Regions from separate parts of the Homo sapiens genome. Here all the other regions are linked to region 2. Evidence: fine-mapped expression QTL. A gene starts in region 2. Each other region holds a variant in brackets. All regions are shown on one strand. Distances are between the middles of the regions.

The links. PIP is the estimated chance that this variant, and not a neighbour inherited with it, causes the effect.
Region 1: its variant is the best candidate, but not a certain one, in a credible set for the expression of SLC51A in whole blood (TOPMed, PIP 0.60).
Region 3: its variant is the best candidate, but not a certain one, in a credible set for the expression of SLC51A in vagina (GTEx, PIP 0.74).

Annotation. Positions count from the first base shown.
Region 1 is chr3:196,190,332-196,193,132 of GRCh38, reverse strand. No RefSeq gene overlaps it. Among named protein-coding and RNA genes, the nearest start is that of ZDHHC19, 20 kb to the left of the region's middle. RefSeq lists enhancers at 6-669, 625-694, 1,655-2,273. The variant C/G (reference allele first, on the strand shown) is at 1,285.
Region 2 is chr3:196,215,361-196,218,001 of GRCh38, reverse strand. It overlaps SLC51A (solute carrier family 51 member A), which reads right to left and starts at 1,468. Exons shown (of 9, transcript NM_152672.6): 1 at 1,252-1,468; 2 at 66-160. The coding sequence starts at 1,289. The region is part of intron 2 of LOC105374304 (a long non-coding RNA gene); the gene reads left to right.
Region 3 is chr3:196,677,207-196,680,007 of GRCh38, reverse strand. No RefSeq gene overlaps it. Among named protein-coding and RNA genes, the nearest start is that of CEP19, 34 kb to the left of the region's middle. The variant T/A (reference allele first, on the strand shown) is at 1,771.

The DNA.
Region 1 (2,801 bases), 25 kb after region 2:
TTACTGTTTTACACAAAACTCCCCAACACTGGTGTCTCCAGGCCAGAAGGGATGGGGGCATGGGCTGAGATTCTTCAAGGGAATGAGAAGAGGGTCACCCAACAACGGCTCTGCCTCCTGTTAAGAAAGCAACTGCTGCTTCTGCTTTGTGGCCAGGCAGTGTTTCAGGCTGAAGGAAGGCAAAAGCAATGGTGTTCCGAGCTCTGTTCCAGGGTGGCTGCTCACAGCCTCCGCCCTCCCTGCTCCTCACCTGACCTCCCCCGCAGGCAGCGTCCCAGGCTCTGCCTCTCCACGTAGGCCTCTGCCTCACCTCTTCTCACCTTTCCACGCTTGCCTCCTCCCTTCCCCTTGCTCCTCCTCCTGTCTTTCTCTTTCTCTTCACACTCTTCTGCTCTCCCTCGATTGCTCTCTCCCTCCTTCTCTCCCTCCCACTTTTCCTGAACCACAGCTTCCAGGAACACAGAGGCAGCTGTCTGACAGCTTCTCACGTCCTGGCTGCGGTTCCAGGAAGGCCCTGGTCTGGGCATGGAAACCCAGGGCACTGTCCACCAGGCTGGAGGCGGGGCCCGCACAGGGCACCTTCGTCTGCCTCTCCCTGGGGCTTCCGCCTCCCACCTGGGCACCCACTTTCCCAGCAGCTTTCTGCTTGGGGAAGTTCTGCTGCTGAAACTGGGGATTCCCAAAGTGGAAGGGGCCCTGCTGAACAGCCAGCCACCTCCCTCACTTCTCAGCAAGAAGAAAACCAAGGCGGTGGGGGACGCAAGGCGGGGCTTCCCCAAGATCACACAGCTGAGCAGAGGCCAGGCCAGGGGGTCCCTGATCTGCCACCTGAGTCCTGGGCCCTTCCTGCCACCCCACGGAGAGGAGACGCCTGGGTCAGAGGCCCGGCCTGTCAACAGGAAGGGCACGTTCTTCCTCCTAAAGGCCTAGTGATCTGACTCCAGTGTAGCAATGACAGCAATGACAACACAGTTGAATGCTAATGGAGGTCCAGGCCTGGGGAAGCACTCGGCCTGCGTTTGCTCACTTAGTCCTCAGCCTCCTGAATGAGGCGCTGCTGTTACTCTTGTGGGTGTCTCGGGCCTGCAAAGACCAGGTGTGCTGGGCTGGGGGCTTCAGGACTACTGTTTTTTATTTTTATTTTTTTATTTTTTTGAGACGGAGTCTCGCTCTGTCGCCCAGGCTGGAGTGCGGTGGTGCGATCTCGGCTCACTGCAGCCTCTGCCTCCCGGGTTCACGCCATTCTCCTGCCTCGGCCTCCCGAGTAGCTGGGACTACAGGCGC[C/G]CGCCACCACGCCCGGACAATCTTTTGTATTTTTAGTAGAGACGGGGTTTCACCGTGTTGGCCAGGATGGTCTCGATCTCCTGACCTCGTGATCCACCCGCCTCGGCCTCCCAAAGTGCTGGGATTACAGGCGTGAGCCGCCGCGCCCGGCCCATTCAGAGCTACTCTTGCACTGATCTCCTGCGATTCCTTGACTGAGTGACCAGGGAGGAAGGTCCATGGTCTGAGGACAAGTCCTGAGGTGAACAGGGCTCCAGGCAGGATTTATTCCATGGCCCATTAGTATCCTTTGGCTGAACCTGAGTCATGCTGAACCTCATCTGTCCCCGAGTAGTGGTGGAGGCATGAGGTCAGCAAGTGAAAGCACTGACCCCTGGGCAGGGCCCTGGGCTGTCTGGGCTGGGAGACTCCCCCAGTCAGATTTAGCTCCTAGATGCCTGTTCCTCAGCCCCTAATGGGAGTGGAAAGATCCCTCCTGCCTGCCTTTTCCTGGCAGGGCAGTAAGCGGCTGTGTAGGGAGCACAGGCCGGGCATCCGGAGAGCTGGGTGGACAGGTGGCTCTGCTGCCAGCTGGATGTGTGGCCCTGGATGAAGCCCCGACCTCTCAGAGCTGCTCCGATCTCAACGTGAAGTTGAAACCAAACTCCATGCCCGGCCGACCTCACAGTGCGCTTGTAGGATCAGAAGGGTACATGATGGGCCGGGCATGGTGGCTCATGCCTGTAATCCCAGCGCTTTGGGAGGCCGAGGTGGGCGGATCACCTGAGGTCAGGAGTTCAAGACCAGCCCGGCCAACATAGCGAAACCCTGTCTCTACAAAAAATACAAAAATTAGCCGGGTGTGGTGGCGCACACCTGTAGTCCCAGAGGCTGAGGCAGGAGAATTCCTTGAGATACGGAAGTGGAGGTTGCCGTGAGCCAAGATCGCGTCATTACACTCCAGCCTGGGCGACAGAAGAAGAAAGAAGAAGAAGAAGAGGAGGAGGAGGAAAAAGAAGAAGAAGAAAAGACGAAAAAGAAGAAGAAAAAGAAGAAAAAGAAGGGAGAACCTTCATGGACTTGTATTCCTTTTCTTAGGCCAGGTCCAGGTGGGTGTGCGGTGGTTGTAAAGGAAACAGTGAGAGGGTCTGACTCAGGCGTGGGGACCTGGAGGGAGAAATTCCCTTTCTCTTCTGTCTCCATTTTCTCTCCTTGGGCCCTGAGCCTTTTGCAGGCTCTGAATTTAGATTATCTGGGGGGTGGGGGTGGTGGCTCATGCCTGTAGTCCCAGCACTTTGGGAGGCCGAGGCAAGTGGGTCATGTGAGTCCAGGAGTTCGAGACTAGCCTGGGCAATATATTGAGACCCTGTCCCTATATAATAAAATAAAAAATTAAATTAAACAGGGCATTGGGAAATGGTCAAGTCCGAGGATGGGCCACCTCATTCTGACTCCCAGGCAGACGGCCCGGCTCACCTTTCTTGGGTGACCTTCTCAGCTCCCTCTCTTCCCCACCAAGTATCTATCCCTAGGGGAAG
Region 2 (2,641 bases):
CCAGCTCCACTCAGCTATCCTGGTTTCCCTCCTCTCAGTTCCCTCTGAGGAGGGTCCCCACTCACCTCTCAGGAGTTGGGCTGCTGTGGGAGGCTGAGAGAAGCAGGCGGAGGGGATGCCGTAATTGGTCTTCAGCACCTCCAGAAGATCTGCTGTGTACCTGGCGAGACACCAGCCTGTGCTCAGAACCATGGGGGCTGGGGGAAGGGGGAGGGTTGCACACTGGACCCTCAACCACTCCTGAGTGCAGGACTTTGTCCATTTCCCCTCAGGGCCTCTTTCTCTCTCTTTCTTTCTTTCCTTCCTTCCTTCCTTTCACTCTCTCTTTCTCTTTCTCTCTCCCTTCCCCTTCCCCTTCTCCTTCCTTCCTTCCTTCTGCTCTCTCTTTCTCTTTCTCTCTTCCTTCCCCTTCTCTTTCCTTCCTTCCTTCCTTCCTTTTTCTTTCTTTTTTTTTCTTTTTGAGACAGGGTCTTGCTCTGTTGTCCAGGCTGGAGTGCAGTGGTCTGTCTTGGCTCATACAGGCAGCCTTGACCTCCTGGGCTCAAGTGATCTACTCAACCCCCATCCCCATGAGTAAGCTGGGACTACAGGTGCACGCCACCAGGCCCGGCTAATTTTTTATATTTTTGGTAGAGACAGGATTTCGCCATGTTGCTCAGACACTGGTCTCGAACTCCAGGACTCAAACTGGAACTGGGCTTAAACTCCTGGACTCCCGCCTCAGCCTCCCAAAGTGCTGGGATTACAGGCGCCCGGCCTCAGGGCCCTTTTCTTAGAGGGAGTGGAGAACTGGCCCAGGTGGGGGAGTAAGACAAGCTGCCACCTAGCCAGGCTGTGCCTGGCTGCCGTGCCTGAAGAGCCCACCGTGGATTCTCTCCATGCGGGTCGGGCAGCAGCCCAGGGACTGACCAGAGAGGAAGAGCAGGATCCCAGAGGAAGGGTGAGTCCTTACAGACGGACGGGCCCCCTGCTGCTGAGGGATGCTGCCATTTCCTCTGCGAATGCCTTCCACAGCCCCCGCTCTGCGACCTTTCTCTCCCCACGCTGGGGGGCAAGGCCGAGGCCCTGGAGTGTCACACCCTGGCCCAAACCCACGTTGTCCCTGAGGACCTAGGAACAGCTAGAGCATTTCCAGTCCTGTCTCATTCTGAGTGCGGCCGCCAAAGGGCTCTGGGAGGGAGAGAGGACAGGCCGCGGGATAGGGGCCACCGCTGCCCAGCGACTGGCCCAGGGCCCGCCGCCCTCACTTACCTGGGGTCAAGCTTTATCTGGGTCCTGCCCGGCTCCATCGCCGCGTTCTCTCCAGCAATCCCGCAGGCACCGGGGTGAGGAAGGGCAGGCGGGGCGGGCAGGTGGGGGCCGGGGGCAGGGTGGCTTGCCTGGGCCGGGGTGGGGGGCAAGCAGAATTGCAGAGTCTTCCCCTCTGCCGCTCTCCCTCCTTGAGCTTCCCGGGCCAACTTTCTATCTCAGAGTTCACCCCGGAGGAATTTGATCCTCTAGGCTGGCGGAGTTCCCTGTGCCTGACTCGTCCCTGCCCCCAGGTGTGGTCCCTCCCACCTCTTGGACAGGTGCCTTTGGCCACCCCTTGCCTCTGGCCCGGCCCATCCTATAGGATTTTGCTGCCAGTCTGCCCTGCCCTTCCAGGAGCCTTCTGGGGTGGGGTGGGCTCACCACGAAGCCCCTGCCCTGGGCCGGGGTGGGGACGAAGTCCTCGCTCCTCACCGCAGTGTTCCCTGGTCAGCGGCCCCTGAAGAACCTGCTGGAACTCAGGCTTGGGCACTCTGCAGCGGGGAGACTCAGGGCTGAGGCCTCGGCCGTGTTTGGTGCTGTCAGCCTGATGTGTGGAAGGGAGGACAGGCTGGAAAAGCCAGATGAGGCCGGTGTGGGTTTCCCAGACCCCAGTTCATCACATCTGGATGATGGGCTTAGCCACCCCCACGCTGGGCCGGAAGATGCTGTATTTAAGAGGCAGAGTTGCAGAGTGAGATTGCTGGGCATTTGACAGGTCTTGAAAACCTGCTGAATTACAGGCTTGCAAACGATTTTATTGGCTGATAGCTTCCCTTTTCTCTCTCTCCACATAGACTGAAATCTCTTCGAAGCCAGACACAGCATCTTGTACTGTGGTACGGTGGTACCTCTAGGTTCCTGGCACGCAGCCTGACACATACGAAGGGCCCCTTAGAATTTGGTTGCATAGCTGATGAAAGCAGCCAGCGTCTGTCAGCATGTCTGGTGTGCCAGGGCCCGCAGGACATGCAGTGTGTTCCTTAGCTTATTTAAACTTTACCACCGCGTTACAAGGGAAGTAGTATCCTTATTCCCATTTTACAGATAAGGAGGCTGAGGTCCAGAGAGGCTAAGAAACCAGGTCAGACAGAAAGCTGTGGGGTGTGGAGAGCGGCCAAAGGGGCCTGGGGGAGGGGCTCTGTTGGGGCATGGTGGAGATGGAGGTAGTGAGAAGAGGGCCCAGGAGAGGGTGCAGAGGGTCAATTCTGGGAAGGGAGAGGGGGCTTCCTGCGCTGGGCTGGTGAGGCCATACAAGCAGTGGAAGCAGTCCCTGATGGGGTACCCGGAGGACTCCCCACTCCTGTGCCCAGACACCTCAAAGTCTCTCCCAAGAGTCAAGCTGCATCCCCCT
Region 3 (2,801 bases), 460 kb before region 2:
GGATACTATTTAATGAATTAAAAAATCTTCTATTATTGGTTTCCTGAGTGTTATTACATTAACAGGTATTGAATTTTTTCAGGTGCTTTTTTGCATATTGAGATGATTACATGATTATTCTTTTAGTCTGTTCATGTAAAATTTGTGTTGATTGACTTTCAAATGTTATACTAATCTTGCATTACTAGAATAAACCTGGCATTACTGAGCAAGGTGTGAAGTCTTTTTGGGGTATATTGCCAGATTTGCTTTGTTAATATTTTGTTGAGAATATTTATATCCAAGCTCATTAAAGAGGTCGTCCAACAATTTTCTCTTTTTGCAATGTCTGGTTTTGAGTCTCGATATCAGGATTTTGCCCACCTCATAAAACATGTTGGAATATATTAACTTTTCCTTTTTTTTTTCTTTTTTGAGACAGAGTCTTGCTCTGTCGCCCAGGCTGGAGTGCAGTGGCGCGATCTCAGCTCACTGCAACCTCCGTCTCCCAGGTTCAAGCAATTCTCCTACCTCAGCCTTCCGAGTAGCTGGGATTATAGGCATGAGCCACCATACCTAGCTAATTTTTGTATTTTTAGGAGAGATGGCGTTTCACCATGTTGGTCATGAACCTCTATCGTTTTAAAAAATTTCTGAAGAATATTAATATTTTTCTTTCTTCAATATTTTGAGTCATTCACTAGTAAAGCCATCTGGACATGGAGTTTTCTTTGTAGAACGGTTTTAATTACAAATCTAACCTACAGGACTATTCAGATTTTATTCTTTCTTCTCATCTCATATTTATTTACTTGTATTTTCCAAAGCCTCTGCTGATTTCATCTAAATTATTCAAATTATTGTGCAAAGATAGTTACAACATCGTATTATCTTCTATTGTTGTAGGGTCTGTAGCAATATTCTCATTTTAATTCCTGACATTGGTAATTCATTTTTTTCCTCTTGAGAGTTTACTAAAATTTTTTTGTTTTAGAATAATTTCAGAGTCACAGAAAAGTTCTGAAGATACTACAAAACGTTTCCATATACCTCTCACCCAATTTGTTTATCCAATACATTTGTCAAAACTAAGAAAACAACATTGATACATTGCTATTAATAAACTCCAGACTTTACTCATAGTTCACCAGATATTTTCATTAGTGATCTTTGTTTCTTCCAGGATCCAATCCAGAATACTGTATTGTGATTAGTTATTACTTTCTTAGGCTTTCCTTGTGTTTCATGACCTTGATAGTTTTGAAGAGGACTGGTCAGATATTTTGTAGAATGTATTTCAGATTGGGTTGTCTTGTATTTTTCTCATTATAGGACTGGGGTGATGGGTTATTGGAAGGAATACCAGAGGTGATGTGCCGTTCTCATCACATCGTATCAAGGGGTACATACTACTTGCATGACACCATTGGTGATGTTAACCTTCATCACTCGGTTCAAGTAGTATCTGCCAGGTTGCTTTACTGTGACGTTACTATTTTTGCCTCTCCATATTTTATTTTTTGGAAGTACATCACTAAGTCCAACCACACTCCAAAGTTGAGGGAGGGCAGCAGAGGAGGATAAGATTCACTTCCTAGAATGGAAAGAATCTACACACATTATTTATAATTCTTCTTTCCCACTTATTAATTTATTTAGACATTTATTTATATCAGTATGGATGGATACAGAGCAAAACAGGAAAGGGTGGAGAAGGGATCTGAAAGTAAAGAGGCAACTGACTGGCACTAGGGCTAAGCCAATATTACTTGTTTTCTAGTTTCTTTGAGA[T/A]TCTGAGCCCAGAGTCTGGACTAATGTGTCTGTTGGATGATTAGATATGTGGCAAACTGATGTTCTGTGTCATCCAGCTTTGAGACTAAGAACAGAAATGGCCTATTGTGTTATAGTATGTGGCAAATGCATGGGTGACACAGGAAGAGAAACTGATTCCTCTTTCAGGAGCACATTAAATTAAGAAAAATGAAGACACAGAAAACAGCTTATATGATACATATGCCACACACCCTTCTTGTCATTGTCCAAATGCAGCACAGAGAACCTTGACCCAGTGCTGACGGGAGTAGTTCAGCACTCAGCTCTCAGGATACTTGGGGGAGTCAAGAACAGTGGAGGGATGGGGGATGGAAGTGAAGAAAAGTAACTTGTAAGTGACAACCAATGAATTAAAAATATAGCTTTGTATGTATCCCCAGAGCTAAGCAGTGCCTGGCACAGAGCAGCAGCTTGGTAAATATTTGCTGAATAAATGAATGTCTTAGGGATTTGCTCAAACAAGGAGTAAGATTTCTGTGTATTTGGACTTTAAATAAGCCTCAAGCAAATAAATGCATCTTTCTAGAAGTGAACAGACCTAAAAGGTTTATGATGTTGAAATCATAAGGGAAGACCGAGCTGTAATTCCCTGATTAGGACATCAGATTTGAGGATGTGGGGGTGGGTGGTGAAGCTCTAGTTTATTGATACCAAGAAACCAGTGGGCAGTTCCCAAGCAGAGTGCCCTTTGTCAGCTTAGAAACATCTAAACTTGTCCTGATGTTGCTGTCAGCTGGCTTGAGGGGTGGGGGGCAGATTCCAGCCTATTTTAGGGGTGTTAGGAAAGAGATTCCTGGTCAGTATCTCACAGGTAGGTGCTGGCACCTGGATGAGAAAGAGAGCTGAGACATACCCATCTTAGAGGGCTCAATAGCCCTCTAAGTCCAATAGTCCAATGACTTTGTGGCTATGAGTTAGCTGAAACCCTCAGTGATAACAAACAAAATCCACATAGGTGTTCTCACAGACTGGAAGCTCACAGTTATAAA